Homo sapiens: one gene and its partners. The protein of the gene in region 3 purifies or fractionates together with the protein of the main gene of each other region. This does not show direct contact. Each region holds a gene or a part of one and is shown on either strand. Other genes may lie near its edges.

The links.
Region 1: the proteins of PCDH12 (region 3) and ALCAM purify together in Homo sapiens (affinity purification with mass spectrometry; 2 studies listed by BioGRID and IntAct, with this or other methods). This does not show direct contact.
Region 2: the proteins of PCDH12 (region 3) and CDON purify together in Homo sapiens (affinity purification with mass spectrometry; 2 studies listed by BioGRID and IntAct, with this or other methods). This does not show direct contact.
Region 4: the proteins of PCDH12 (region 3) and TMTC4 purify together in Homo sapiens (affinity purification with mass spectrometry; 2 studies listed by BioGRID and IntAct, with this or other methods). This does not show direct contact.

Annotation. Positions count from the first base shown.
Region 1 is NC_000003.12:105,544,480-105,552,705, reverse strand, and holds part of ALCAM (CD166 antigen isoform 1 precursor), read right to left. Parts: intron 7,484-8,226; coding exon 7,371-7,483; intron 5,558-7,370; coding exon 5,422-5,557; intron 5,317-5,421; coding exon 5,183-5,316; intron 2,580-5,182; coding exon 2,447-2,579; intron 563-2,446; coding exon 524-562; intron 239-523; coding exon 121-238; coding exon of another isoform or gene 117-120; exon of another isoform or gene 1-116. UniProt on the Homo sapiens protein: Cell adhesion molecule that mediates both heterotypic cell-cell contacts via its interaction with CD6, as well as homotypic cell-cell contacts. Promotes T-cell activation and proliferation via its interactions with CD6.
Region 2 is NC_000011.10:126,003,302-126,011,527, forward strand, and holds part of CDON (cell adhesion molecule-related/down-regulated by oncogenes isoform 2 precursor), read right to left. Parts: intron 7,394-8,226; coding exon 7,040-7,393; intron 2,757-7,039; coding exon 2,458-2,756; intron 776-2,457; coding exon 601-775; intron 1-600. UniProt on the Homo sapiens protein: Component of a cell-surface receptor complex that mediates cell-cell interactions between muscle precursor cells. Promotes differentiation of myogenic cells.
Region 3 is NC_000005.10:141,942,236-141,948,583, forward strand, and holds the end of PCDH12 (protocadherin-12 precursor), read right to left. Parts: intron 3,571-6,348; coding exon 3,146-3,570; 3' UTR 1,346-3,145; downstream 1-1,345. UniProt on the Homo sapiens protein: Cellular adhesion molecule that may play an important role in cell-cell interactions at interendothelial junctions. Acts as a regulator of cell migration, probably via increasing cell-cell adhesion.
Region 4 is NC_000013.11:100,629,078-100,637,303, reverse strand, and holds part of TMTC4 (protein O-mannosyl-transferase TMTC4), read left to right. Parts: intron 1-569; coding exon 570-772; intron 773-2,108; coding exon 2,109-2,280; intron 2,281-2,367; coding exon 2,368-2,499; intron 2,500-8,226. UniProt on the Homo sapiens protein: Transfers mannosyl residues to the hydroxyl group of serine or threonine residues.

The DNA of each region.
Region 1 (8,226 bases), on a different chromosome or scaffold from region 3:
GGGGATACATCTTCCTTATTGTATAAATTATATGCACGACTGGAGTGAGCAAAATTAGCACATTGTATTTTCTCCCAGTGAAAGTCAATGAACGATGAAGATCTTTTTTCCACAACTCACTTTGACTTCTTCATGTACAGCCAGTAGACGACACCAGCAACAAGGGCAGCAAGGAGGAGACCAACAACGATTCCCACAATTAGTTTTGCCTGGTCATTCACCTTTTCTCTGTTTTCATCTGCAACAAAGAAGAAAAGTCCATGCAATTACAGACAATGCCAAGGATTTTCAGAAAGTCAATCTAGCTATTACTTTGTATTAAAAATGACTAAAGCTCACTACAGTAATTAACATGCAAACTTGTGATTTTTAAAGGGTAAAATTTTAGCATTCTTACTATCTTGTCTTTGGTATTTTAATTCAAGTCAAAATTGTGGACAGCTAAGAAAATTACTTATACCATGACACTTCATAAATCTTGAGCTGATAGTCAAGGAAGAAGAGTCGGCAGCATAGTACCTACCACTTATCTCGTCTGCCTCATCGTGTTCTGGAATACTTACTGAAATGAAAAATGTTAATATGAAATTAAAAACAAAATTTGTTGATATATGAAAGTCACCTTTACCATTATAGTATGATGTAATAATACTCAAAGATAAAATGTCTATTCTATAGCTAACAGTAAAAAAAAAAAAATCACACTTAATAAAGTATGACCTTGCCTACAAAGAAATTAATCTTGTTTTAAGGAGAGGAGCTACAACTGCAAAGATATTAATCTACCATAGAAAATTTCATAACTGATGACCTATAGAATTAATCTGAAATCCATATTGATTTTCCCACTATCCACCACCTTTTAATAGTCATTCTTTTTTTAGGGAAGCAAGTCGGCACCTAGGAAGTCTACAGTGTGATGTTTATCAACTTTTCTCAACTTTCCTGCCCGATATAGGAGAATTCATTGTCATCCTCCAGTGTCAAGGACTTACCACTAGAGATGTTCTCAAAGTAGTAGGAGTAGAGGTTAAAACTGGGGATACCTCCGAGATTAAGAAGCAACATACATGATGTTTGCAAAGCTCTCCAAATGACTCTGATAATGCCATGCTCTTTGTCCATTTTAAGAATTACCACTGTGTTGAATTATTATCTAATATTAAACTCTATAAATAAACTTCAAAGTGCATGGGCATGCATCGGAACTGCCAGTGACATTTGATAAAATGCAGATTCCCGGACCTCTCCTCATACATGCTAAATTGGCATCTCAGGAGGTGCTCACTGAATTTGAAAACGACTATATTAAATGTTGATAAAGTCACTGCAAGGCCTAGAAAACTGAAGCATACCATTCAATGGGTTAACATAAAAAGAGAAACTTGTGTTCAGGAAGAAAGGGTAGGTTCTCTTCCTAGGTGGGACAAATCAATACTCACTGAATTGCATTCTGAGAAGTCAATGCTTCTATCTTAGAGTTAAATTTGTTTGGTTCTTTTATCCTGTCAATCCATTAGGCCTTTATATTCCAGTCATAATCTGTGAGGGACCATTATTTTTTGATGATTATTTTCTCCTAGCTCTTGCTAATTCCCAGCTAGTGTAGTCCTAGCCTGCTAATGTCATATACAGGTTTCCAACTGAATGAAGAATAAAAGTTTGGCAGGTCAGTTAGCATCCTGTCCAGAACTGAGCCTCATTCTAGGCCAGTCCTGATTTAAGGTTGACAAAACAATAGGAACAACTATAGAATTGAAGATTATGGACAATTTCACATTAAATGACAATTGTTTTCTGAAGAAGCTGTTGTTGGTATGTATGTATTACCCTGATTTCAACATCGACAGATTTTTCCACATTCTCTGAGATAGTTTCACTTATCTGATTTTCGGCTATAGTTTAAATATGATATGACAAAAGGAACAGTTTTGTAAACTAGATTCATGAATTCTAAAATCACTCTTGCTAGTTTACTAAATGACTTTAAGCTTGTGGCATTCTAGTACAACATAAGGGTAGGATAAATACCACAAAGAATTAGAAGGCAAAATAATAGATCAAAGGGAATTACAAATTTACCAAATTTAAAACTGTTACAAAAATGTTTTAAGATGATCTTTGAATTATCTCCACTCTGAACATAAAACATGAATTAAATAAGAGAAACTTATTTTTTATTCTCTGTTGCTTTTGGGAACTATTCCTGTACAGGATAAGGCCTCTGACCCATAAAACATGAAATGATTTAACTGTCAAGACAAGGATAGTACAAGAATGGACAGGAAAAAAGAAAAAATAACCTTATGATGATGATACCAAATGCAAAATAAATAAATAAAACTTACCATAATGCAGTACAGGAAGATGGAATTGAAGATTTTAAACTAATGAAGAATAACTTCAAATTTTCTTACTTTTGTAATGCCAGAAATAAAATACTCACTAGCAGAGACATTCAAGGAGTTTACTGTTCTCTCCAGTTGGTTTTCTGCTGTGCAAGTTAATGTAACATTCTCTTCAGGGGAAATGATAATTTTACTATAATACCTGCCATTAATATAAGGAGATTCCTCTGTCTGGAAAAAGAAGAAAAAAGGTGGGTTTAGAAATCAAAATGGATTAAAAAGCATAGGAAAGAGTAATGATGACTGTAATAGGATAGGCGTGGTGCTCTATAGAGCATTCTGGTGTTCAAAAGCTATGTAAGATCATAGATCAAGACCCATGTATGCCAATATCTACAAAGATTAGTAAATCCATAATGAAATTTCTGTTTATGTTTCTTTTGTGAATTCTAATAATTAAGTTAATTAAACTCTTCTTTTTAAATAGAATCTCAGGTTTAGTCAACATTTTGGCCTGATGATACTTGTTTCAAAATAATTAATTGGTGACTATTTAAACACCAACTTTCCACCAATAAATATATGAATTTAATTATTTATAAATTTAGTCACTGTTCTTCACTGTGGGAATTAATTCCTTTATCTTAAACCATTATATCAAAGTATGTATGTATGTATAATTTGCTCATGGGTACATGAAACCATTTTTTTCTAAAGTTTTCTGTTGTAAATACAGAGGATGGATGATTTTTCAGTGATTGCTGTCCCTCTGATGTTTGTGAGGTGTTAATGAGGGTAATCACTGCATTTAATTCCTTCAAATATAAAATACAATTTACTTTAATCTCATCCCTAGGATTTGACTCCTAAACCCAACAAGGTTGAGGCAAATAATGTACTTGCACTCTTTTCTCGGTCATCTTATGAACTCATTCCCTACATTTTTCTCTTTCTATATTGTTTGCTTTCTCCTCAACTACATGGTAAGTGCCTTGAGGACAAGAGCTATTCTCCTGTTTTGGTTATCTTCTAGTTGCTGGGGTGGAGGAGGGGCAGAGACATCTTCTAGTTGTAAAATAACAGATTCACCATGTATCTGAGAAGGGAACAAATAAAATTGTGATTATGGATGCATCAGCACAAATCCCAGAACAAGAAAAATAACATATCACCCAGTGGGCCAGAATCAATCTTTCTCCTTGACAATGAAAGATGGCATTATTATTTTTATCCTCACAGTAAATTTACCTGCTATTTTTTCACTTCGTACTAGGATTTTTCATCTGACTTTCTCACGGAATCTTTGTTTTTGTTACTTTAAACTCTACAAAATATATTTTCTCATTTCTAGGATGGTCTTTTAAATCTTCATATCTTTTCATTAATCAAAAACTTACTGTCTGCTTATGTTTCTGTTTTCTATGTCTGTATTACCAGTACCTAAAGGTTCTTTTTTGCTGCAGTTATCACTTAATTGAACTAGAGAGCAAAAACAATAGAGTAGAAAAGAAACCACCATTTTTGATGCTAAAAATAGATCTGCACATTGTCAGCAATTTAGATGGTTCAAGTCTTTATTCCAAATCAAGAAAACTGCATTTTCCTAGGTTTGAGGAGCCCAGAGCTTCTTTGCCTCCTCTTATATGCTTTCTTACTGTGTGTCCCCATCACACTTAACCAAATCAGGAGTCATTCACTTCACGTGTGCCTACTCTTTTGAGGGCTTTCCATATCTAGAGTTATGCAGCTATATATGCATCACCTATAGTTGAAAGAGCCAAAATCCACTTTGCACTGCAAAACTGCATGGCGTAAGCTGGGACAGTGGCCCAACTTCCCTAGAAAGAGGAAGAGTGGAGATTTTAACTTAAAATTAATTTACAGCTCTTTGCTTTATATATGTCTTCTCAAATTTCAACTGGGTCAAAATCTGAGAAGTACAGAAGATTTAAATAATCCAGTGGTACCTCTGGGTGCTCCTGAGAAGCCTTTACAGATTATACTGAGAAGAGGGAGACACGAAGACTGTTGTAGAGAACAATGGAATTAGCAAGTATGTCAGCAACCCAAGCAGATTGGCAAATTACTGGGATTACAGTTCTGAATCCCTAGTGGTAGGCCAGATTCTCATTTTTCCTTTAAGGGGAGGGTCAAAGACTTAATAGTAAAAGAAAATAACAGGTAGTGTTAACAAATCCTTAACCCTTTACTATTACTAAAATAAAAAGGTACAAATATTAAGGTCTGGTTTATGACCCTTTTGTTCAGAAGGGCACATCCTAGGCACTATATATGTAGCTTGCCTTATTCTGGCCCTAGCACTGCATAGGCATGTCAGACCACACATTCATAAGCAGTAACTGTGTTCTTCTCCACCATTCCTACACGAGGACATAGTTTTAAGAAGTAACACCCCTTAATGTGCATAAGTTGAGCACAGTATTAGAGTTCACTTATACTGAGATGCATGAGCTTATTTTGCAGGAAAGTGTATATCTTAATGTTTTAATCACTCACATTTTAGGAATGAATGATCATGAAGTAATACCTAATTTATATTCTTTTAAAAACAGATACTGACCATGACACAATGGTTCTTCCCTTCTCCATGGCCCTGGGATAAAATTTCTCTTTGAGCCATGTTCTTCCTCTAGGAAAATTAAGAAGTTAGCAAAAGCTTCCTCTGAGCATGTACTGCAAATTCTATGTGGTAACAAACCAACCTACACACTGCAAATTTTATGTGGTAACAAACCAACCTATAGGGTAGGTTCGTGAAGGAAAAAAAACGCATTGGACGAAGTGCAGCATATAACAAGAAGACAAATACTTGCTTGGTTTATGACGCTTCCACTGCCAGTAATTGTCCATTGAATGGCTGGCTTTGGAAAACCTTCCACATGGCAGATTATTGTTTTAGATAGTCCACTGGGATCAGTTTTCTTTGTCATTTTTATTTGAGGTTTGCCTGAAATATTACAATTAAAATAAGATGTTGAACTGAGATCATAAAAGAAACCAGGTAAAAAATTCTCAAAGAACAATTTGAATTAGTGCCCAAGTATTTTATTACCTTCTACAATGAGAGTCAATGACTCTCTTTTCTTTAGTCCTTCAACCTCCTGCAGAGCAGTTTCGCAGACATAGTTTCCAGCATCCTGATAATGAAGACTAGAAAATGACGGGCTAGATCGAAGCCTGATGTTATCCTGATTAAATAAAAAGTAAATTACCTCATGTGGCAGAATTAAAATTCTCAGTGTATTTATTAGATAATAATTAAGCCTAAAACAATTCTTCTGGGAATAATATAAATGCAAACTTCTTTTTCTTAACTTCAGATGCTTTCAAAATAGATTTCCTTTTTCTTTTGTTGTTTTAGAGTCAGACATGTCAGATTTTTATTTCACGCTCTTTCATTTACTGAATTTATAATTTGGAAAGCGTTCTATTCCAATTTCTATGAACAAAGGAAATGTATCATTTAATTTTAAAAAATAGCCTGATATACAGAAAATAATCCTATTATGTCAGGAATTGAAATGCTCCTAAGCAGGCAACTAGACACAATCCTAAGATTATGTGGTCTTTGTCCATTAGGATATTTTTTCCCACTCCCCATTAACTAACCAATAATCAGGGAATACTGATCATCACTATTTTGAATACATGAGCTGTTCATGACAGTTAATTCATAACAGTGATTGCAGTTGATTGTACAAACAGTTTAAACCACAGTAAACTTAGTTTCTCTAGTCCTATAGTAAAACATGCAATGAGTGTTCAAATGATTATGAATTAGTCTAGTTGCCTAGAACTTGTCTAGCCTTGTGATCACTGATTACTACAAACATATCATGCTAGATTGCAGCATAGGAAGTGGCACTTTATTTTAGTGAACAAGTTGTGATGAGGCTGTGGCTGAAAGAGAGTACAATAAGAAACTGAGCTCACAGAGTAAGACAACAAGTAGCAGAGGATCGAGTGTTAAAAAGGATCAAAAGGCAGGCAGTAAAGCAATACAAAATAATTTCATCAATATATTTCCATCAAAAAGAAACTCTAGAAAAATATTTCTCCACAGTTTCTTATAAAGGTAATTCTTGTCAACTCCTATTTCAAATGGTATGTGTTGTTTTCTGAACCCATCATGGGTTAAGGGTTCTTGTCACATGTCATGCTCTGGTAACAAATGCACTGGGAGTTTGGATATACTAGCCAAGGGTTTAAGTGGAGGGATCGCAATCACAACCTTTTCCTTTGGTGATAACCTTGTCTCAAATCACCAATTATCAGTCACACTTCCTTACTCTAAAAGGATAGCCAATGGCCTACATTTCAGACAATTACAAGAGTATAAGCACTTGTTCAGGGAATACTGAATTAACTCCTACTATGTTCCAGGTATTCTACTATAGCTCAGGGATAAAAGGGATTGCTTTCTAGGAGCCCTTGATCCAGTGGAACCTGTTTTCAGAAACTTAAGAGTGGTCTCAGCAGCAGAGAGACAAAAGGTGTCTTATCAAAGCATAGTATTCATACTCAGTAAGGTCTGGCCTTGAGTCTCTACTCTGTCAGTTATGAGCTTTCTGATTTATTTCCCTTCAATTTCTTTATATGAAGAATGTGGGGAAAATAATAATCTTTGTATTTCACAGGGTTGTTGTAAATATCACGTAAGGATAATGTGGGCAAAAACACACTGTAAATTATTAAGCCCTGTGGTATATAACTATGTTTGTATGTGCACACATGCGTGTGGTGTGTGTATAATTAGTATATACACATAATTGACATAACACCCCAAACTAAGTTTCAGAATACCAATTATGGATGTCACCGTGTTGAGCACCTCTAAAATTTTATTGTTATTTTATTTCTCTTATCAGAAACAGAGAGAGAGAGAGAGCTGGTATATAAACACATCCATGAATATACCTACTTGAATACAATATAAAGTGCATAAGAAACCTAAAAAGAAATCAAACCAAACAGCAGGGTAGTACCAAAAATATTACTTACTTTCATCCATACCACAGTTGCATTCCTGCTAGCAGATATTGTGCATGACACGGGTAGGGCATCACCAATCTGTCTAGTCACTTCTCCACTTGGGTTTAAGGACAAATCCAAATCTGTGAAGCAGAAAATCTGTTCAAAGTGCTAACTCTGAAATGTAAGATAGTCAAAATATTTTGGAGAAGAAAAGATGAAAGAAAATAAATTTCTTCTAACTGCATTTGAACATTCAGAACTGATTTATATGACTAAAATAATTGGACTATAGCATGATTAGCCTAGTTTTTCAAGCCAGCCTTGAGACTAGTTTAGACAAGAGAGTGGTCAATCTAATTGATTATCCATTTATTTGCAGTTAACGTGATTGATATTTTGAGGGGATATAAATATTCCCCTAGGGCCTATCACCTTAAGAAAAAAAAATCTTAAGTCACTTCTGGAAGAAAATAAAGATGATGACTAGGTAAATATTATATAAAGAGACAGTAAGGCATAAATGTTGGAAAATCAAGCATCTTTAGACAGCAGGTGATAAATTGAAAAACCATGAGATAGTAGTTGTGTTTCTTCAGAGAGAATTTACTATAGCAGCAGATATTTTTAAAAAGTGCTATTCCATTTCTCATCCAGTTGATGGAAAACAATCTTTATAAAAATCTTACTGTCATAGTCTGATCTGTATGAGAAAATTCCAACTCAACTGAACAAGTATTTATTGTACAGCTACTAAGTCCCAAGCACTGATGAGAGATGCAGAGATAAATAATGACCTTATAAGTCAATGAGGTAGAGGTACTATGCTGACTATAACACACAGCCCATAAAATCAGCACCTAGTAGCAAACCTGACACTGATTTG
Region 2 (8,226 bases), on a different chromosome or scaffold from region 3:
TTCTTATCAAAGTATAAGCTCTGTCGGGATGGATCTCATTTTGACCATCTTCATTTTCCCTATATCATCTATCCTCATTGCCTTGTATAACATAAGCTTTCAAAAACATCTGTGGAATATTCTATAGAATAGGACAATACAATCACGTAAATGTGACCCCAAAATGGAAGGGGGAGGCTATAATAGGGTCGTTTAGTGAATTTACATATAGGAATTTCTACTATCCAAAAGAATTCTGGTTGGGCACAGTGGCTCACGCCTATAATCCCAGCACTTTGGGAGGCTGAGGTGGGCGGATCACGAGGTCAGGAGATCGAGACCATCCTGGCTAACACTGTGAAGCCCCGTCTCTACCAAAAATACAAAAAATTAGCCGGGCATGGTGGCACGCACCTGTAGTCACAGCTACTCGGGAGGCTGAGGCCGGAGAACTGCTTGAACCGGGGAGGCGGAGGTTGCAGTGAGCTGAGATTGTGCTACTGCACTCCAGCCTGCGTGACAGAGCAAGACTCCATCTCAAAAAAAATAAATTAATAATTCTCACTAATAAATTGACATCAGGGCAGCCAGCTCATTCCTCCAAAGGAAGCCCTCACTCACCTTTGCTGGTTCGGAAGGTAAGCATGGCAGGTTGGCCTTCACCTGCTGCGCTTCTTGCTACCATCAAGACTTCATAAAGACTAGATGGCTCCAGCTCAGCTAAATGGAGCTCATTTTCACTTCCTGGGACTCGAACCGTGTGCCAGCTTCCCAGCATGCCAACCCCATCATCCAGCTGCCCAAGAGAAAACACACCAGAAAAGAAAAGCAGGAGATGGAGGATAGGAAATCTTTCGGTCACATTTGATCAAAACTAGGATTCATTTAATTCTAGAAGAGTTTTAAGAAGTAATACAGCATGGTAAGTAAAAAAGACACAATACTTCTTCATATTAAGAAATAGAAGATCTGCTGCAAGAACGCTGCAATTCTCACTGTAGAAAGACTCCTGGCTCTGCATCTGACCACTAATGTGTGGCCTCAAGCAAGTTACTGCCCTCCCAGACTCTGTTTCCTTTACTTGTAATGGAAACAATGCCTTCTTTCTTCCTGGGCTAATGAAGAATAAAATAAGTATAAAATAATAGGTATCATTGGTAATTATATAATACACATAATAGATACATGGTAAATTAAGACAATATTATATTATGTTATATGTATATGAATTATATAATTATGTATATTTCCAGCATTCTTGCTTCATGTCTTGACACTGTTCAATATGTGTTAGAGGAAATAAAAAGATCTAATCAGTTGTTTCTTGATTAATGGAACCAAGAAACAATATTGCATGGAGGTATTAGGGTAGATGAGATTACTAGCAAAACTTCTTTATCTAGAATCATTCATCAGGTTGGAAATAGTACATAAACCTTAAAATATCATCATATTAAAATATCATCATGTTATTTTTCCTAGTCATTAAAAACATTACCATTCAACAATGTATACTAAAATTTCTTGGACAAAGAAAATGATTTTAAATATGGAATGCATCCCTCCCATTTCATTCATGTACTGGTCTCATTAAACAGAGAGGAGCTTTTCCATTCTGCTCCAACACAAGCCCATGGGGAAAATGATATTTGAAGAGTTAACTGAGAGAGGCCCAAGGTTTACCACCAAAAATGACCTAACAATGTATGACTTTAATACAATTAAAAAGGCAACTTGAAGCTGGGCACAGTGGCTCATGCCTGTAATCCCAGCACTTTGGGAGGATTAGGTGGTGGATCACTTGAGGTCAGGAGTTCAAGACCAGTCTGGCTAATATGGCAAAACCCCATCTCTACTAAAAATACAAAAAAATTAGCCAGGTGTGGTAGTGCATGCCTGCAATCCCAGCTACTTGGGAGGCTAAGGCACGAGAACTGCTGGAACCCGGGAGGCAGCAGTTGCAGTGAGACGAGATCACACCACTGCACTGTGGCCTGAGTAACAGAGCAAAACCCTGTCTCAAAAAAAAAAAAAAAAACAAACAAACAAACAAAAAAAAACTTGAAATGCAAACAATTGGCATAAATTATGCCAGAAACTCTGTTCAAACAGTTGTTTTTAATAAGAAACTGCTTTATTTGCTACATAAATGGTATTCTACTACCTTAGAGAGGGAAGGAATTTGTGTTTTAAAAGTGGTTATAGAGCTTTATGTTGAAGGGCTAAAACATTTGAATACACATGTAAAGACATCATTGGGTTCCTAGAATTCCAATTTGGGGGGAAATTATACTTCATTCTCAGTGCTTTCCTAGGATTGGTAAATCCAGCATGACTGGGATCTCTCTGACAAACTCATCAGTCTGGAAGACTCTTGTTCTGTTTCCTGCCATTCTACAAATGAAAAGGCAACAGTATATGTTATACAAAGAACGTTCAGGTGTGAGCCGAGAAAGATGATAAACGACAAGACATTACCTTTCGATACTTCACAAAGTAAGCATTGATGGGCAGCCCACCATCCTTGCCTGCCCTCCACACCAGGTTGTACGTGTCTGGTGTGTGGGTCTGTGGGGGGCTCAGTATGATGGGGGCATCAGGAACAGAGATGCCGCTGGCGTTTTTCTCTGGTGCTGATTCCACTGCACTGGGATGGACCTTCACCGGAAATGAGCTCAGTAACCCAGTTTCTGAACCATCTCTCTTACTTCTGTCATCATTCTGAGCAGCATCAGGAAGTGTGACTGTCTCTGCTTTTGTATTTGTTTCAAAAGGAACTGCAGGGAGAGAGAGAGGAGACAGCTTGAAGATACTCCTCATTTCATTGTCTTCTACCCAGTTTGTGACGTGACTGCCCTCACTTGTATTGTTAGCACAATTTGAGCCCCAGAAGTTAAAACGGGTAACACTGCCATTTATAATTCATGGAAATGTTTAACCTCTAATTGCAATCTTTTCTCATGGTGGAGCAAATGAATTACTTGAAAAACCAATTATATGATGCAATAGTGTAGCAGTTAAACGTTCTTATTTTTTCCTTGTTCTCTAAGAGTATTCTTTTTAGTAATAATCATTTGCCAGTTTAACCTCAGAAGATTTCAAGTTGGCCAGGCATGGTGGCTGACACCTGTAATCCCAGAACTTTGGGAGGCCGAGGCAGGGGAATCACTTGAGCCCAGCAGTTCAAGACCAGCCTGGGCAACATGGTGAAACCCCATCTCTACAAAAAACACCAAAATTACCCAGGCGTGGTGGCGCATACCTGTAGTCCCAGCTACTTGGGAGGCTGAGGTGGGAGGATCACCTGAGCCTGGGAAGGTTGAGGCTGCAGTGAGCCATGATCGTGCCACTGCACTCCAGCCTGGGCAACAGGCCAGCTAACTTCTACCCAAGGGGATCCTGCAACTACACCTCTCAAAAAAATTTAAAAAGATAAAACAAGCAGGCAGCCTTAACACTTACTACTAACAGCATACAGAATATACAGAGGAAGATAAAAATAATTTCTTTGCACTGAAAAAAAAAATAGGTTGCATACAGTCAAAGATAATTACTGAGCACATATTATGTGCCAAGCATTGTACTATCTTATAAACATAATCTCATTTAATTCTCCAAACATTCTTAGGTAGATGGTAATACTCCCATGTTACAGTTGAAGAAATTAAGGTTCAGAGAGACTAAGTGAAGGCTGCCAGAAGAATGTTCATGGTGCTGCTGTGAAAAAAAAAATAATAAGAAAGAACAATTTATGAAAACAAATATACTGCCAGCACAATAAAACCTAAGGAGTGACGGCTTGGTTTCTCTAAAGTGCTATTAATACTGGCAACAGAAAATTCTATTTTTCACTCCTTTTGTGGAGGAAGAGTGCAGAGCAAACAACGTACTACTTTTATGTCCAAAATGAAGTCAGATTCCTGGTAAAAGATGGGTGTGTTTTTGGGAGAAGGGCTGCACTGCAGTAGAGAACCAACAGAAAACAGGACTGACAGTGTAAGGTTAGTTCTCTGTTAGTTTAAAAGAGAGAAAGGGTGTCCCAGAAGCATCCTCCATCAGAGAAAACAAGAAGCTAGTGAGGAAATAATGTAGAAGAAAACTAATTAAGTTCACTGAGACAACTTCAAAATATTGCTCCTGGAACAGCAGTGTTTATCTAGTGAGTCAGACTGCGGACTGATGTTCAGGGTGTGATCTGGTGCCTGCTAATGCAGACAGAAGGACTCGGCAAGTGGAGATAATTAACTGTGGCTTGAGGTAGTGGAGAAGGACCTTTTTATCATTAGAAGTTTAGTGGATCCTCCGGGCAGTTTTCCACTGGGAAGTGGGATCTGGCTGTAAAAGAGTTTAAATGCCACATGCCTCATACAGAAGCATGAGAAAAACGTTAATGCTGCAGCTTCTCCACTGTCTGAGTATCAAAATTCCATTTCTGTAAGACTTAAGATGCAATGAGACCTCTCCAGAACTTTTATTAAAAGGGGGATTCAATTAACTTTCTTCTTCTGTTTCAATGATATAATCTGGGCACTTGGGAGATACACTCAATACAACTGAAAAGACCTTACCAGTACTTCCCCGGTGTTTTTGCATGTATTATCTCAACTTATCTTCAGAACTCTATGAAATGGGTAGAACAGGCATCTAGCATCTTTTAAGGTAGAATGTTTTTTGAATCGGAAAAGAGATTGATGCAACTACGGCAATGTAAATAAATTTAATGACTCTAAGTGGAAACTAATTAAACAGGGAGGGAGTACAACCATATCTGTCAAAGATGCTCCCACTGTGACCACTGCTGCCAGCAACTCACAACCCAAACTATTTAGGAAACCCGCACCAACTCTCATTATAGTTTTAAAGAGTACCACACACTCTACAAATATTTGTACATCCAGGACCTCAAAAACCCAAAGTCTCTGGAAAAAACAAAAGGCTGGGGAGAGAGTTATCTCTCTCTCTAACCTAGCTTGCTCTCCCCTTTACAGTACAGTAGTCAAATGACTTGTCAGGATGCTAGAATTTCATAAGGCTCAGATTCCTATGCAAAGAAGTGAGTTGTCATGTATTGTTTTGAGTTTTAATAAACTCGGTTGGATCTTAATAATTATACTAGAAAATTAAAAAAAGACAACGTAGGACCTCTTTGGTAGAATACAGCTGATGGGGTTACCATACATAAAAGTAGTATTTATCGAGACATAAAATCCTGGAGCACAGGGGAATCTTAAAGATCTTCTAAAGTTAGTTCACATAACTTCAAAGGGCTTCCGATTTCTCATATTTAAGGTGAGGAAGTTCGACAAAATATCTAGTTTCATCAGCCATAAAACTATGACATCTGTCTCTCTACACCCTGTATTCACATAATCGCTTCAGCTAAATTCTACCCAAGGAGCTCCTGCAACTACACCTGTCATGCAGTTAACAATTTCGAGCAGAGCCACTCTTATTTTTGCCTAGAGGAATAGAAATATAAACACACACGCACATTCATTTATAGGTGCAAATTTATGTAACACTGAACTACTTTCTTCATTTAAGGATTCTTAATGTTTCTAAAATCAGTAACTATTTCTTCCTTCCCTTAACACTGCCACAAGAGATCACTGTAATTTAATAATAATTAGACAGTAACAATCATAACTTTATACTTAGTATCAATGGAGGGCTTTCTATTGCCAGACACCATTCTAAGCACTTACTACGCATTAACTCCTTGGATTCTCACATCAACCCTATGAGTGGGGCACCTTCACTATACCTGTTACACAGATGAGGAAACAGAACAGAGAAGTGCAGTGATTTGCCCTTGGGTTACAAAGCTGCTAAGTGGCAGAGCCAGGATTCTGACACAGCCCACGTGCTCAGCCTCCACATCTCTCCCACCTCTAACATGCACAAGAGGATAAGGGGAAGTCCCTGGTCTCCACCACTTCTCCTCCGCCTCCAGCTTCATTCAGAGCAAGGGCGTCCTTGTTTGCACGTGAAGGGAAATCGTATGTGCACATACGAACTCTTTTTTATTTCAACCATCACTCCTCTGCCAAGGACCCCCCGTTGACCACTGCTCTGGCTAAGGGTGCCCACACACTGGTCGTGTGGTCCAGACTGTGGCGGATGGGCCAGGGGAGAGGAACTGTGGGGACCAGACTGTGAACTCACTGAAGCAGGAAATGCTGGAGCCCCAGACCTGTCTAGAAGGAGGAATGTGGGCTCTGAGCTCAGCATAAGCACTGCTCCTCGACCCTATGGGCTCTTTAACCTGTGGGACCATGGCCCCAGGCAGAAGAGAGCCACGCTAAGCCCCTTAAAGCAGAGGCCAGGGTCAGAGACCTCAGTTACCCAAAACTAAAGGCAGTACTGCCTTTGATGTTGGGCCTCTCACAAGACAAATAAGATGACAATCTACACCCAACTGACTAGCTGTTGGGGAAAGCTGCCCTAAATGCCTACTGATGGAAGGTCTGAATTTGAATTAAGTCAAGTTTGAGTCCATTTCCATGAATATTAATAGTCTATATACCAGTACATCAAAAATCATATATAGTTTTTAAGTCATCATCACAAAAAATCAGTAAAATATGAAGAATTAATATTATACATCCCATTAGAAAATAACTTTGGATAAGACACAGGGAATATATACATACAGGTATTACTTAATAGTACCACAACTCTACATTCTCAATGAAGGCCAGTCCTTTAGACCCAATACTGTAGTTATCAAGGGCATAAAAAATGTCTGCAATATCATTTTCGGTAGCTTAGAAAACCAAAAGCATTCATCTCAAAGACAGGTTATATTCTGGGCCTGCTCCCAAATGAGAGCTTTCTGTATTGCACCTACAATCTTAACAAACACATCAGAAACAGAGACCAAAATTCATGTGATTCACATAAAGTGAAATACCAAGAAATACAGTTCTACATTTCACTGTCATCAGGAAAAAATATAGAGAGATTGCTGGATTCATTAAAATAACATATTTCAAATCACTTTATCTTCTATTATAAAAGGAAATTACTCAACTAAAAATAAATAATAATGGCAACTCACCAACCATGAGAGATGCTTCTGCCTGTGTGGTACCATGTTCATTTGCAGCTTCGCAGATGTATTTCCCCGCATGTTCCTGAGTCACAGCCTGAATATGGAGAGAGCTTGCACCAGCTTGGGACAGGACGAAGTACACAGGCTCCAGGTTCAAGCCCTCAGGTCTTGATAACTGTGATTTTCGGGATTTCGATCTCAGGACTTGAGATGGATGGCTGGTTATCAATCCATGGCTGTCATACCAACGAATGACCGGAACCGGCAGCCCACTGGCATTGCAGGACAGAGTAACAAAGTCTCCGTCTGCAACCTTTGCACTTACTGGTGCCGTAATTATAACTGGCTTGAATCCACCGTCTATTAAAAAAGTAATTCACATATGAAAAATGAAGAACATTGTAGTACCTACGATGCAAAACAACTTCATCCTATCACGTAAATGTGGGAGTAATGATTAAAACCAAGATAGCTACCTCCTTATTAGTTCCCTTCTCAACTTTCACCAAGTAAGACTGTCAATAAATGGTAGAGTTGTTTCATAGCTGTGGGCTCCTAAACATTTCCTACGTAAATTTCCTGTCCTTCAGAAAGAAAGGAATATATATAAAGAAATCTTTTGAGAGTTTTCTGAAGGTACACTACACATATCTGACCACTGCAAATATAGAACATATAAGGTTGAAACCTCAGACCTTAACAGGAAAAATGTGTAAATAAGTATAAAAGTAGATAATTTTCCTTCAAGAAAATGGTCAATTTTGTGGGGTAGGGTGGGAAGGGAGGCAGGAATCTGATTATAAAAAGCGTGGGAGAAAAAAACCTGTTCTCAATAAAAGCTGATACTGATGATACCTGTATGTTTTTTCCCATAGGCATGAACAGAATTTTTGTTTCTAAATTAAAGTGGCACCAAATCTTTCCTTTTGGTCCTGGTATTCTCTGGAGGTATTTTGAAGAGAGCTTACAATGGAATATTGATCAAAGTAAATGACATTTTCTCTAGCATGTCTGTCTTTTTCTCCAGTCCTCCTTCCCATGTCTGACAAAACCAACCAACAACTGATACCGGATTTCTGGATTTTTGCCAAGCTACTGAGTGTAAAATGCTATCTCACTGGTCAGAACATGCATTTTCCTGAGGACTAATGAGGCTGAACATCTTTGCATGTGATTATGCGACATTATTAATT
Region 3 (6,348 bases):
ATTTCAGCCAGAGAAGAGGCAGCGTCAGTGAGCTGCCAAACTGAAGTTGGGTGACAGACAAGGCAGCTGCCTGTCAATCTCTGAGCTGCCTCCAGGCTCTGAGTGAGCACTGCATTGCACTCCTGGTGCTGGAGAACGGCTGACTATTGATTTAAAAAATGTCCCTCTATGCTTTCCAAATTAGGACGACATGTAACAGTGCTTGCTGGCTCGCCTGCTCCCTCAGTCTCCCAGGGGACAGAGCCCATCTTGGTGGAAACTGTTTTGAGCGTGTCCAAAGTCTCAGCTTTGACATCTTGGCTGATGTCAAGAAATTTCTGTAACCTTCCTGTTCAACACACCCAGTTCTGTTACCATAGACACGGTCTCACTCTGAGCTGTTATTGGGAAAGGTGCTGGTATCAGCTCATCAGGAGGGGACACATGGTGCAGGAGAGAACACTGTCCCTCACGTACATACACCCCCATTCTGATCAAAGTTCAGAACAGGAGCAGCTCTACGCAGGAGTTCTCCAGGTTCTGCAGGGAAGGCAGGGCTGAGGGCTGACCTAGAGGATTGTAGTGCTTTCTAATCTTAATTGGGCCCGAAATCTCTTTGAGAATCTGATCTAAGCACCTACTTCTTTCCATAGAAAAAATGCATATCCTCCCAATTTTGCATGTAGTTCAGTAGGTTCATAGATCCTGAAGTCTAACCAAAGACGTCAGATTAAGAATCCTTGATGTATTAAAAAGACCACCATACTAAATCCCAGATCCAAATCCTGATTTGAGCAAGCACTCAGTTAAATGTCTTAATTTGGAAAGCTCTCCCCCACAAACCTGCCAGGTGGCCTTGGGCAAGTCATCTGCCGTTTCTTTCTATATTCTTGGCTATAAAATGAAGAGTTGAAATAGATAAAGTTCAGACTCTTTATGACAACTGCCCATGTCTGTGGATGTTTAGATAGTATCTTAAAGCAATGCTGTGTAACCTTTTAAAGGTCAAGGTTTCCTTTGAGAATCTGATGAGAATTTTGTATCTTCTGCCTAAAAAAGTGTCTAGACACAAAGTTTTACCTAGTATTCAGGGTGCCCAAGGAGTACAGATTTAGGGCTTTTGAACTAGAATGATGCAATGGTCCCATGTGTCTAGTGATCCAGTTGCCAGCTATAGCTCCAGCTTCCTCAGGTCATCTCCCCCTGCCCACTCTCTTCTCTCCACCCTCCCAACATCTGCTCTGCACTGAAAATCTGCTGGTAACTGGGAGGTCACCATGGTCTACTCCAGTACTGTGGTTCTCAGACTTTGCTTTTACATCACAGAGTCTTTTTTTCTAATGAAGTCCTACCTGGAGCTCCAATATGGATAAAAGGGGCCTCTGAAGCATTTATTGACACATTTATTCATTCATACATCCATTCAACAGCTATTCATCAAGTGTTGCTTTGTAGCAGGCACCTGGCTGGTCAGGCTGGAGACCCTGCCTGCCTGCTTGATATCCCCCAGTTTCTCTCACTGGCCCACAGAACCCAACAGTTCTGTGATCCAGCCTGAAAATCACAGATTCTGTAAGGAGATCACTCTGGCCTAGAGTGAGGTGAGGAGAAACTCTGCCCCTGAAACTCATAACTTTGGGGAGCCTCATTTTCTTCATCTGTAAAATGGAATAATGATACCACACTGTATTCCAAGTATGTATGATGCACATTATCCCTAGTTGGGAGTATGATTGGCCCATTTCTTGAACAGTGAACATGAGCACTGAGCTCCAAGAAAGGACAAAAAGAGGAGCAGATAGAGGAACTTTTGCCTGCAGTGTCCAGGAGAGACCCACACTATTTAGAAGCTAGCTGATTGGCTGCTCGGAAATTTCCAAGAAAATTATAAAGCTGAACCTTGGGAAAATATCTGCTGTTTCTTCCCTCCCCCATCCCCTGGAAGGCTGGCTGCTGTCAGTGCCGATTTCATAGACCCAGTTCACACAGCGTCCTCTGGGATTCACAAGCCTGAACCTGCAATGACAGAGGAAGGTTTACCCGCAAATGGGGTTGGGAAAGATGACATCCGCACTTGAAGAGCTACTTGTTGGGAAAGAACGGGTCTGCATCAGTTCAGATCCAAGTTCCTTTTGCCTTGTGCTTGGGAATGTAGAGAGGTGCGGGCCTGGATGGCTTTGGAAATGTTCCTTTCAACAGTGTTTCCCGAGGGAGCTCGAGCAAGTTCACTGCTGCCAACAGCTCACCTCCAGGGCCTTCCCTTCTCCTGTCTTTGGTTGGCAGGCTGGTGTCAAGGTTGAAGGCATGGGTTTTGGTGTTGGCCCAGCCTGGGTCCAAATCCTGGCTCTGGCTCTACTCCCTGCTTGATCTTGGGAAAGCCACTTGACCTCTCCAAGCCCCATATCCGTGTCTGTGAAATGGGGTTAATAATACCTCCCTCCCAGGATTGTTGGAAAATCAAATTAAATCCTATTGTAAAGCCTGGTGCCTGGCTCATGTAAATGCTTTATAAATAGTTGTGCTTTCTTAGCTCTAATTTTGCAGCTGAGAAGCAGATTAGTTGGTAACATAGTGATAGGGGAACAGGGGTAAGAGCACACATGTCTGCTATTTGTGTACCTGTTACTGTGTACCAAGGTGCCCCACTCCTGTCCAGGCCCAGTGTGACGGTCTTGCCAGGGATTGGATGACAAATAAACCCCACTCTATTACTCTTCCCTTCTCCCTCTTGACAGGTGCAAACAGGAGAATGAATCACTGCTTTTCCTTTATTGATAGGTCAGAGAGCATTTCCTGGCACCCCCAGGGTACAGCCCCCTGACTCCTGCTACCCAAGAAGGCCACCCTTTCCTGCCTGTGATACTCCGTGGCATCTGTTCTGCCAGAGGACTGACCCTTTGTGCTCCACATATGTTTTGCCAGGAAACACTTATCTCAGCCACAAACCGTCCCTGTCCTCCAAAAGACTCAGAGCTGCTTACAAGGGGCTGCTTTGGTCAGTCAGCTGTTAGTCCTGGGGCTCTTGCCTCCTCTGTGGGGGTAGCATCAGTCACCCTAAAGTTCTCAGGCCGCCGCTAGCTAGTGAGTTACAAGATTTTAGAAACCAGCTCTTGTCCACAGATCCTCAGGCCCCTGGTTCTTGGATCCAGAGGCGTCTGAGGTATGTTCACAGGCACCTGCTGCTGCTGCTGCTGCCTCTGCTCTTGCCCTCAGTCCCCGTCTTTCCACCTGGGTCCCCTTGCACTTTCATGCCTGAGGCTGCACTGGTGGCCAAGTCTAAACTGAGGGTCCTCCCGCAGACCGAGAGCCGCCGCAGCGCCTCGGAGGCGGCCTCCACGGGCATGCTGGAGCGCTGTTCCAGCAGCATCTCCAGCAGTGAGCTCATCTCCGAGACAAAGGTGCTGGCCAGCCTCGTGCCTGTTGGGCTCAGCTCTGGTGCCTCTGCCTTGCCGAACGTCTGGAAGGTCCTTGGCTCCTCCGTGGCTGCAGCATCCGGGGAGATCACATTGTCACGGTAGTTGGTGGTGAGGGGCAAAGAGAGTCTCGCCATCCAGGCCGGGTCAGGGGCGCTCAGCCGGTCCAGGGCCAGACCTGTGGGGGAAGGAGGGGACACAGTGAGGGCCAGGCTCCGGGAAGGGCCAGGCGGGTGAGGGTGGGGCAATGAGCAGGGCAAGGGCAGTGGACAAAGGAGGGAAGGGAAATGGCAGGGGACAGACAGAGTGGCCAGACGGGGACAGGAAGGAAGAGGCCCTGACAGGGAAGCTCCCTGGGTAGGAAAGCAGTCGACTGACACACCCGGGCGAACCAAGTGGGGAAGCAGCAGGAGGAGGAGAAGGCCTAGAAGTAGAAATTTGCCGATTTCTGAAGAATTTCCCAATCTGGGCGTGTGTTTCCAGTCTCAGTGTCTTCTATATTTCATCCAGGATTTTTACCCCTCAGGGCGCCTTCTCCCCTCAGGGCTCCACTAGCTGAGGATGGAGGGAAAATCCCTTTTCTTTGCCAAGGCTGGAGTTCCTGACTTAGCGCTGCCTTTTTTGGTTCCCATCCATAATAATAGGGACCACATATTAGGTACTTACGTGATGAGCAATTTACATAATTATTTCATTTAACTTCACAAACCTTTGAGGTCAAGAGTATTATTCCCATTTGATGGATGAGGAAACTGAAGCTGAAAGAAGTTAAGTCACACATCTGCTAGGCAACCAAACCTCAATTTGATGCCAGGTCTGATGACTTTGAAGCCTATGATGGCACCACCCTACCCTCTCTCTGAAGAGCTGGCCCTTCCTCCCCCTGGATACTCCAGGTGCCCAGCTGGGGCCTCTGGAATTCCCAGGCTACCTAAGGTCTGCACTGTTACCACCTGGCCCCAGATCCTCAAATCCTCCTCAACATCATCTCTCAAGCTGCTGGAACCCTGGCCTAGAGTCAGGCTGGGGAGGGGCTGCCTGTCCAAGGGCTGTCCCAGGAGAGGGACTGGGGTAGTGGCGGTGGCAAGTCAGCCTGGTGGCTGGGAATTCAAAAAACTGGCCCCTACATTTGCAATGCCACAGTCACCCTTCTTTTCCCATCCCTTTAACAGAAAATCCTGTTTCAAGAAACCAGTCCCAGGCCTGATGGTAGAGACCAAGCCAGAGGAAAGAAATTATAAGTCTTGGAGTTAAGAAACAGTGTCTTAAAAAAATTAAAAAAAAAAAAAAAAGCACAACATCTACTTAACATTTATCTAATGTTTGCCTAAGGTGAGTTACTTTAAAATCTGCGCACAGAATGAAAGACTGGAAGGAGATATGTCAAAATGTTAACTGAAATTACCTCTGGGCAGAAGCAATCCATTCTCTTTTTGTTTATCTATGTTTTTCTATATTAACCAAATATTACTTATGTAATTTGAACAAGTTATTCCGAAGTATGTGTAGTCATTTATTGTACTGATAAATGAATCTCTGCCCTGCATTCTGGACTGTGCAGCTTGTGAGACACTGTTGGGCTCCTGCCCTACTGGATCCTTGGGTTTAGCCCCATGCCTGGGACTTAGTGAATGTTTGTTGAATGATTGAATGAACATAAATATTAACCTTCAACATTTGGGAAATGCAAACCTTAGTTCCTTGAGACTCTGAGGCTATAAGGTTGGATGGAACTCTTGGTGTTATAGAATCAGGCCTTTCCTTTTACATGGGTCAGAGAGCTTCAGAAGGAGTGAAGCTTGGAATGAGAAAATCACTGGGGCGTATGAGAACAGCTGAAAAGTGATGCTGAATTCACCCAGCATCACCCACCAGTTCTAGCTGCAGGTGGGCACTGGGCCAACCTGGGTTTGATTTCCCAGCTTTGCAGCTTAGGGGCAGTGTGTGTGACCTTGGGAAAATGGCTTAACCTCTCTAAGCTCCCGTTTCCTCTTAGGAAGTGGTGAGACAGTAGTACGTATCTTGTGGAGTTGTTGTGAGGTTCAGTGAGTTCATGCAACCAGGAAAACATTATCATGGTCGCATTCTCAAGTGGGGCAATCTGAATCCGAAGCAGCAAATCTGAAGCAATCTGAAGCAGATCTGAAGCAGCAAGATCCCAGTCTCCCCATGGCAGTCCAGCCTGTGAGCAGCAAAGGCTTTTCTGCCCCTCCTCTTTCCTTACCCCCAACTCCTTACAGTGCCCCTGTGTTCAGTACCCTTTGTGCTGTGGGCAAGCAGGACCGTGTGGGAACTGACCCCACAGGTTCCAGCCAGAGCTGACCAATAGAGATAGAATCCAAAGCTATATCCCCCAGCCATACATAGCCAGTGAGCACTTGAAATGTGGCTGGTATGGCAGAACTGAATATTTTATTTTATTTAATTTTAATTCACTTAAATTTAAATAGCCACTTGTCGCTAGTGACTACCTCATTGAACAACACAGCTCTAAAATTTACAGCCACACTGCCTGTGTTAATAACCATCCACGAGCTGCACAACCTTGGGCAAATTATGAAACACCCCTGACCCTCACATTTTTCCTTTATGAAATGGGGATAATGAATAGCCCCTATCTCATAAGATTTTCTCATGAGGTACTTAGAACAGGGCCTAGCACATAGAAAGTGCCCAATAAACATTAGCAATATTTTTTAACCAAGGAAAGAGAAGTCCCTGCCATACCTTCAGTGTGTCTGCAGCCAGATGGAGCACATGAGAAACAGTGTTAACTACATAGATAGAAAACCACAGCACAGGGATGGTCTGCCGTGGGGTGTGTTACCAAAGGAGGCTGACCAATGTCCACAGCAGGGGCGGGGGGCGCTAGCAGATTCTTGAATTCAAGTTCACATTATGTATTTATTGTCAAAGCTAATTATTTCTCTGCAAAAAAATCTTTTTGTTTTCATTG
Region 4 (8,226 bases), on a different chromosome or scaffold from region 3:
AGAGGGTGGTTCCTTCTCACATCAGGGTCCTTGCCAGTCCCGTGAAAGGGCTCCCTAACCCTGTGGCTGGGTTAAGGCTAAATATAACCTTCTTGGTGGTATCTTTAGAAGACTAGTGGTGTCAAGACTATTCTTTTAGATTTGCCTTTTTTCTAAAGGCAAGGGTATCAAGCCACAGATTCTTAGCTGTGCATTTCATAGAGACCAAAATCAAGAGAACAGCCATCGAAGCCTGTTATGTTATTGGGTGTATAGGTGACCCTGGGTCCTCAGATTTAGAGGTCACAGGCTTCAGGCAGCAAATAGATCATAGCTTTGCCAGAAATATAACGAATGTATTGCATAGTCTGATGGCTTTGCCATATTTTTATATACCAAAATCTGAATACATTTAATACATTTTTACAGACTATAGTCACATACCCAATACACGTTGGCAACATTTTATTTGATACAACTGCTTTCATTGAGCAGAAGCATATGAGTGCCTCCAAAGTGAAGTTAGTGCGTATATATGTGTTTTTTAAGTTCAGTATCAAATAGATGTTTGTTCTCCTTTTGACTGGCAGGCCGTAAACTACAATTACTACTATTCATTGAATGCCTGGCTGCTGCTGTGTCCCTGGTGGCTGTGTTTTGATTGGTCAATGGGCTGCATCCCCCTCATTAAGTCCATCAGCGACTGGAGGGTAATTGCACTTGCAGCACTCTGGTTCTGCCTAATTGGCCTGATATGCCAAGCCCTGTGCTCTGAAGACGGCCACAAGAGAAGGTAAGAGGCAGCACTGAATCTTAAGTTCCACGCTGGTTGAGTCAGAAGCGTTTTGTGAAATCCTGCGCTGATCATTTTTATGATTTTGTGGAAGTCACGTCTAAGGACATTTGTTTCAAATGCATATTTATGGCTAGGATGAGTTCCATCCATTTGGAATCCATGGCTGGCTTCCGCGGGTGGGGAGCGAGGCTGGAAGAGGAGCTACGGATGACTGCTTCATCCCTCCCTTCCCCTTTCCCTAGGAAGTAGCATTTTGCGATCCTTTTCACCATAGGTGGTAAAGAGTAATTTACGGTCAGAACAGAGAGTGTAATTGATGTGTGTTGTGCCCATTATTGCACAATTCTTCCTCAAAACACCCTGGTGAACGCTGCCATGATTCCCTCTGTTGTAGCTGGGTACAAAATAAGCCATTGCCCCAAAGAGACTGTTCTTTCTTGATGGAAAAAAAAGTTATTGAGAAAATAATTGGGGAAAACAAATGTGTTTCATGAAAAAGAAAACTGTTTAAGGTGATTTCCTTTAAGCCTAAGTGTTTATGGAATTAGATTAGTAATGTCTCAAAATAAATTAAGTTTTAAGTTTACCTGTGTGTTGAATTGGTTAGTAATTCTAAGGAGCCACAAACTTTAGTCCCAGTTCCCTTATCCACAGAAAATGGGATTTTTATAGAAATACTGTAGCCACAGGGCCCAAGAAGGAGCCACCAAAATTGACCTAGAGTCTTAATTCATCCTCTTGCATCATAGGGGACATTGGGAATGATCAGGTGGTTCCAGAAGTGTTTCAATGCTCAGCTTCGTATCTCCCTGACTGAAATTTATGGTGGTGATGTAGCAACCAAAAAATGGTATTTGTTTATTTCAAATTTCATAAACTTTAAACTTACTTAAGTGTTATTATTCTCATTACATTTTGGAGGAATTTTTTTTTCCCCGTGAAAACTGATTGGGACAGTTTTTGAATTAATTGAGACCAACAATATCCACTGAACTGTTCAGTACCTAAATGGTTTGAGGCATAGTGAGGAGTAGGTGAATTAATAAGGCCTCAGAAATGCGATCATGCTAATTTTCTCCATACGAATTGTATGGCTTTTGAGTTTTACCCTTAGACTCGCTGTGAAGTGCCAGAGGAATATTTTTGTGCCTTATCCACATGCTACCAAGCTAAACTGTCTCTACTGATGATATCCTTTGGCTGACAACAATATCTTTTCTCAGTTGATGCCATGGAAAAGAAAAGGTCTTTAGCATTAATTTAATGTGGAGTAGGATGTTTTTCTTGAGAAGTCTGGAAATAGCCATTTATTTAAATACTTTTCATCATCCAGGATCCTTACTCTGGGCCTGGGATTTCTCGTTATCCCATTTCTCCCCGCGAGTAACCTGTTCTTCCGAGTGGGCTTCGTGGTCGCAGAGCGTGTCCTCTACCTCCCCAGCGTTGGGTACTGTGTGCTGCTGACTTTTGGATTCGGAGCCCTGAGCAAACATACCAAGAAAAAGGTATCAACTGAGAGTGGTGCCAGCTGATGAACAGAATGACCGGATGCATCTCACTGGTGACAATTACCATGTCTTTCTGTTCTTAAGAAACTCATTGCCGCTGTCGTGCTGGGAATCTTATTCATCAACACGCTGAGATGTGTGCTGCGCAGCGGCGAGTGGCGGAGTGAGGAACAGCTTTTCAGAAGTGCTCTGTCTGTGTGTCCCCTCAATGCTAAGGTACCTAGCTGCCAGATTTCTTTTAAAGGGACCTTACTAGGGTATCTGTTAAGTTCTTGGGCTGAATAAGAACATTTCCTGTCGCGCAGTATTTAGTGTAAGACCATGACCGAATACTTGGGTTTTTCTTTGTTATGTATGGTTTTTTTTAATGATTTTGATAAGATTCATTAAAATTCCACTCAGCCAAAATTGAAAAGAAGTCATTTAAAAGCAGACAGTATCAATGAAACAGATGACTCTAATGAGGTCTTAATCATCTTCCAGATGATCTACTCACCCTTTGAAGTAGCTTCAGGGGAGGTGACATTGCGTATTCAGACTGAGGGTGGGCACGGCACAGATTCTGATGTCTAGAGCACACTTTTCAAAACCCACTCTCTAGTGATAGCATTAACTAGCCTCCTCCAAGCTGGAATTTAAAGGGGTAGTAATGCCTACAAATTGGCAATAATGTAGTTCAGGAAGTTTATGCTATGTGCTGCACAATAGTACACATTTATGTCACCTTTGGGTGCCCTGCTAGTGATTTTTTGGGGGTCAGATTAGGTAAACATAAATGTACATACAGTCATGTGCCATGTAACAGTGTTTCAGTCAGCAAACCGCATATTGCATATATATGACCATGGTCCCATAAAATTATACCTTTTTTTTTTTTTTTTGAGACTGGGTCTTTCTCTTGTCACCCAGGCTGGAGTGCAGTGGTGCGATCTCGGCTCACTGCAGCCTCCACCTCCCGGGTTCAAGGGATTCTCCGGCCTCAGCCTCCTGAGTAGCTAGATTACAGGCGCTTGCTACCACACCCAGCTAATTTTTGTATTTTTAGTAGAGACAGAGTTTCACCATGTTGGCCAAGCTGATCTTGAACTCCTGACCTCAAGTGATCCGTCTGCTTCAGCCTCCCAGATGCTGGGATTACAGGCGTGAGCCACTGCACCCGACCAATATTTTTACTGCCTCTTTTCTATGTTTAGATACACAAATCCTTACCATTGTGTTACCATTGCCTCCAGCATTCAGTACAGTCACACGCTACACAGGTTTCTGGCCTAGGAGCAGCGGGCTAGACCACACATAGCCTAGGTGTATAGTAGGCTTTACCATCTAGGGTTGTGTAAGTACACTCTTATGATGTTCAAACAATGACAAAATCAGCTAACAATGCATTTCTCAGAATGTATCCTTGTTGTCATCAAGTAATGCATGACTGTACTCTAAAATTGGCAGTGTTTTTGTTTGAAGCAATCTGGTAGGAATTTTTTCACTTGTATTCTTGATGAATCCAAGCTCTTCACTTGACTAGCTGTGCCTCTTTGGGCAAAACTACACTTTTTAAAACTTGCAGTGCCCTTTTCTATCAGAAGTGGATAATACCTATCTGCTGGATTTGTTGTTAGGGCTGAATGAACTAAAATGCCCTCACACGGTGGCCAGCAGTAGGTGCTCAGAAAGTGTTAGCTTTTTTTTTTTTTTTTTTTTTTTTTTTTTTCCCTGAGATGGAGTCTTGCTCTGTTGCCCAGGCTGGAGTGCAGTGGCCTGATCTCGGCTCACTGCAACCTCCGCCTCCCAGGTTCAAGCGATTCTCCTGCCTCAGCCTCCCGAGTAGCTAGGACAGGCATGCGCCACTATGCCCGGCTAATTTTTGTATTTTTAGTAGAGACGGGGTTTCACTATGTTAGCCAGGCTGGTCTCGAACTCCTGACCTCGTGATTCGCCCATCCTCAGCCTCCCAAAGTGCTGGGATTACAGGCATGAGCCTCCGCGCCCAGCCAAGTGTTAGCTTTTGTAGGTTCATTTCAGTTTGGGTTTTGCATTATGTTGGGAAGAGAACGCTATTTGCTCAAAATGGGGGCCAAGGGGTTAGGTTAGAAGAATTTTCTTTTAGTATAGATTATTATCATGAAATAATGATCATTCTCTCTTAGGTCCTCAGCATAAGAGCTGCCTAGATTGCTTAAATGTAATCCTCCTGGGTGGAGACGGGGAGCTCTCTGGATCTGTTTCATGTCTATGTTCCATATTTAAGGGAAAGCAGTGATTTCAGACAAAATTATATAAACAAAACTAATGAATAGTTGACATCTTATTATGAAACTTAAGTAAAGAATAATATATAAGAGATGCTGGCTACTTATCTTTTTCTTGGATTAAAACCTGTCATTCATATTTTAGTTAAGAGACTTAGATAAAATAGTGAATTACTTTCAGCTTTTATCTTTAGTTTGATTTGTTGACTTATCAATTTATTTTATGCTACCAAAAATAAATTGCCTGTGATTTAATTTCTTAAACGTTAATAGATCTGCTTTATTTTTCCTTTACTGTTTGAATCGCAGTAATTGCCCCTTCTATGTGTGGAGTTCCTCACCACAAGGAGTTCAGATTTCTTTACAGAGGCTCTATAATTCATCTCTATTATCCTCTCACTCAGCTTTTTAGAGAGACAGCGTATTATTTTCTCTGTTTTCCCAGATGGGAGAAACTGAAGCATAGCAAGATTAAACTGACATTATCTAGGTTAGTAATGTAGGTGGCTACAGAGAGACCTGGTATGGTGATGTGCCCAGGTGCCTCTAGTAAATAAGGGGGATGGAACATAGGTGATGTCTGAACCCAAAAATCTGCCCGGGAAGTGATTTCATATGTTACAGGCTAGAAAACACAGGGCGTGTGCTTGTGGGAATGCACGTAAGTATTAGGAGAAAGACAGAGAGAGAGAGAGAGAGAGAGAGAGAGAGAGAGAGAGAGTGTGTGTGTGTGTGTGTGTGTGTGTGTGTGTGTGTGTGGTTTCCTCTTAATTTAAGGAATACATATAAGACCTCATCTTCAAAATGGACCCAGTGGTAATAGTCCTTTCTCAAGAACATTTTTCAATGATTCTATTCAATATAAGCAAGATTGAGATTTTTGGGAGTTTCTTTTTAAATTGAAGTGTCATAAAATTATCTTTACTTCCTTTTTTTTGAAAAAATGTAAGTTAATTTTAGGAAAGTAATCTCACTTAGGAAGACACTGGTTTCCTTCAGTCCCATTATTTCAGGGGACACATTTTCTATACTGGTTTCATTTGATATCTATTGAATATAAAGTAAGAAATTGGCAACTGGCTCTAATTTAGGGCCAGATGTGTGAGCTAAGACTCATCTTTTTTGAGAGATTGCAATGTCAGTGTAGGTAGTGCTGGTCCCTGGTCTGCATGTCAAGGCACAGTGCCTTGCATATGGTAGACAATCAATATTAGTTATTGAATTCAGCCAAAGGGAAGTTGAATTCACTGAGACTACTGTGGATGAGATACCAAGTATACTTATAATCATTTTTAGTTTTTAAGGCTTAAAAGTATGTCACACCATCAACTCTGTGATACAATTCTATAATAAATTCTTTTAACAATGAAACAGATCATATGCCACAATGAGGTATTTTCTTAAGGAGTAAGTGACCCAGGATGCTATAGGATTTTTATGTTTTCAAAACATTTTAAGTTTAACATTAGATGTTGCCAGAATATTTATAACAAATTAGTTTAGCCCTGGTATTAAAGGTGCCTTTCATAACTGATACTCTCACTTTCTTGCATTTACATGTTACTGGGTTGTAATGTTTGTTTTATCTTCGACTTCTGTGCTAGTTCATTGCCTCAGCATGTGCATCACAAATGCTAGGGGGAAAGTTGAAGAATAAACAAGCTTTTCAATCATTTATATTTCAGGGAAACAAAAGTCAGTCATTCTCTAAACACTATTTTAAGTGACCTGGTTGTGAGATTTTTGTTCTGTTTTGTTTTGTTTTGCAATCTAGGCAGCTATTTTTTATTCAAAGAATTCCCTCCACCTAACCCATAGGATAAAGCTGGCCTCTAGGGAAACCTGTTTACCAATTCTTAATGATGGCCTGCCTTCTAAGGCTGTATCAGATTTTTAACTAGTTCCTGTTCCAGAGTCCCACGTCCTTCTCCTTTGATCTTCTGGTCTCTGGCATTCTGAGTGTCTAACAGAACACTGTCTATACTGCAGAGGGCGGTTGAACTCTTTGTCTGGGCTTTTTATTGAGAAAACAGAATTTGCCTGGAACAAAGGAAAACAGCAGGAGCTTGGGGCGGAAGAGGCGGGCGTCGTGTTGATGTCTGAGTAGAAGCTGTATTTGTATTCTGAGGACTACAAGGACATCACTGACAGATTGGATTCTCCGGCCCTAGGTTGTTTTGTGCATACGAGAGGAGGTGAAGTCACATGTCCAAGCTGGGTTGGGGGAAGCTCAAATTCTAATCATTTAGAGCACTTTTCTCAACACACACTTCAGCGATAGCATTAACTGAGCCTCCTCCAAGCTACAATTTGAGGACAAAAATACCTATGAATGGACAATAATTTGATGCAGAAAGCTTAAATTCTACTGTGTGGTGCATGGTAGTACACACATTTTTATCACCTGCAATTTCTCTGCTTGTGAGTCCTTTCATCAGAGTGGGTAAACATAAATCTATATGCTTTTAAATTGGCAGTTAAGAAAACCTGTTAATATGCACTGCTGCATATTCTTCCAGAAATCTAAGTATGTTTGACGAAGTGCTGTAACTGTAGGTTAAGATGGATAAGGCAGGATGTGGTTGTGTTTTCAGGGGTCATTTGGAAGCAGTGTTCAGACATAATGTTATTTGAATGTGTTTAAACCACTTCTGTATTTCAAGATTTTATTAGTTTTCTCAGGCTGCTATAAACACACACACACACATACACACACACACACACACACACACACACACACACACACATACACACAGATTGGGTGGCTTAGACCACAGTTAATTTTCTCACTGTTGTAAATGCTGGAATTGTCACATCAGGGTGTCAGCAGGGTTGGTTTCTTGTGAGGCCTCTCTCCTTAGCTTGCAGACGGCACCTTCCCCCTGTGTCCTCACGTGGTGTGTCTTCTGTGCACACATATCTCTGGTGTCTGTGTCCATATTTCCTCTTTCTGTAAGGACGCCATTCATACTGGACTGGGGTCATATGGATGGGGGCCCAACCATATGACCTCATTTGACCTTACTTACCTCTTTAAAGACCCTATCTCCAAATACATTTTCATTCTGGGGTGCTGAGGGTTTAATGTAAACTTTGGGGGACAATAACATATAAAAAGAAATGTGATTTTACTTAGGAAAAAGGCCAGTGGTATGAATGAGTGGATCTAGAAAGTGCCTCGAGCAGTCACCCTCATCTTCCCCCAGCACTGTAATCAATGTGTATTATCTAGTGGGAAGAAACACAGGCTTCAGAGCCTGGTTCTAATCCAACTTCACAGCCCTAGATGAGACGCTGAATGGCCCCGAAGCAGTTTATCAACTCAGAAGAGAGGGTCACAGCAGCCACGGCCTCGAGCCACCGTGAGGAAAGACCGCGATCACACAGCACGCAACACCGCTCCCAGCTGGTGGGTGCCACTCAAGGTGTGCCAGCTACACACCATCTTACCATTCACCGTGACTGTTGTTAGCAGCACCCACACTTCATGCTTCTGATTGAGTGAGTTTCTGTAGCATCGTCTCCTCTGGGCTTGCTACTCACTTTGTATTGTAAAGTCCCGAAAGGAGCTTTTGATCATCAACAAATACTTTTCTTTTTCTTTCACTTTTTCTTTTTCTTTTTGTGAGACAGAGTCTTGCTCTGTCGCCCTGGCTGAAGTGCAGTGGCATGCTCTTGCCTCACTGCAGCCTCCAAC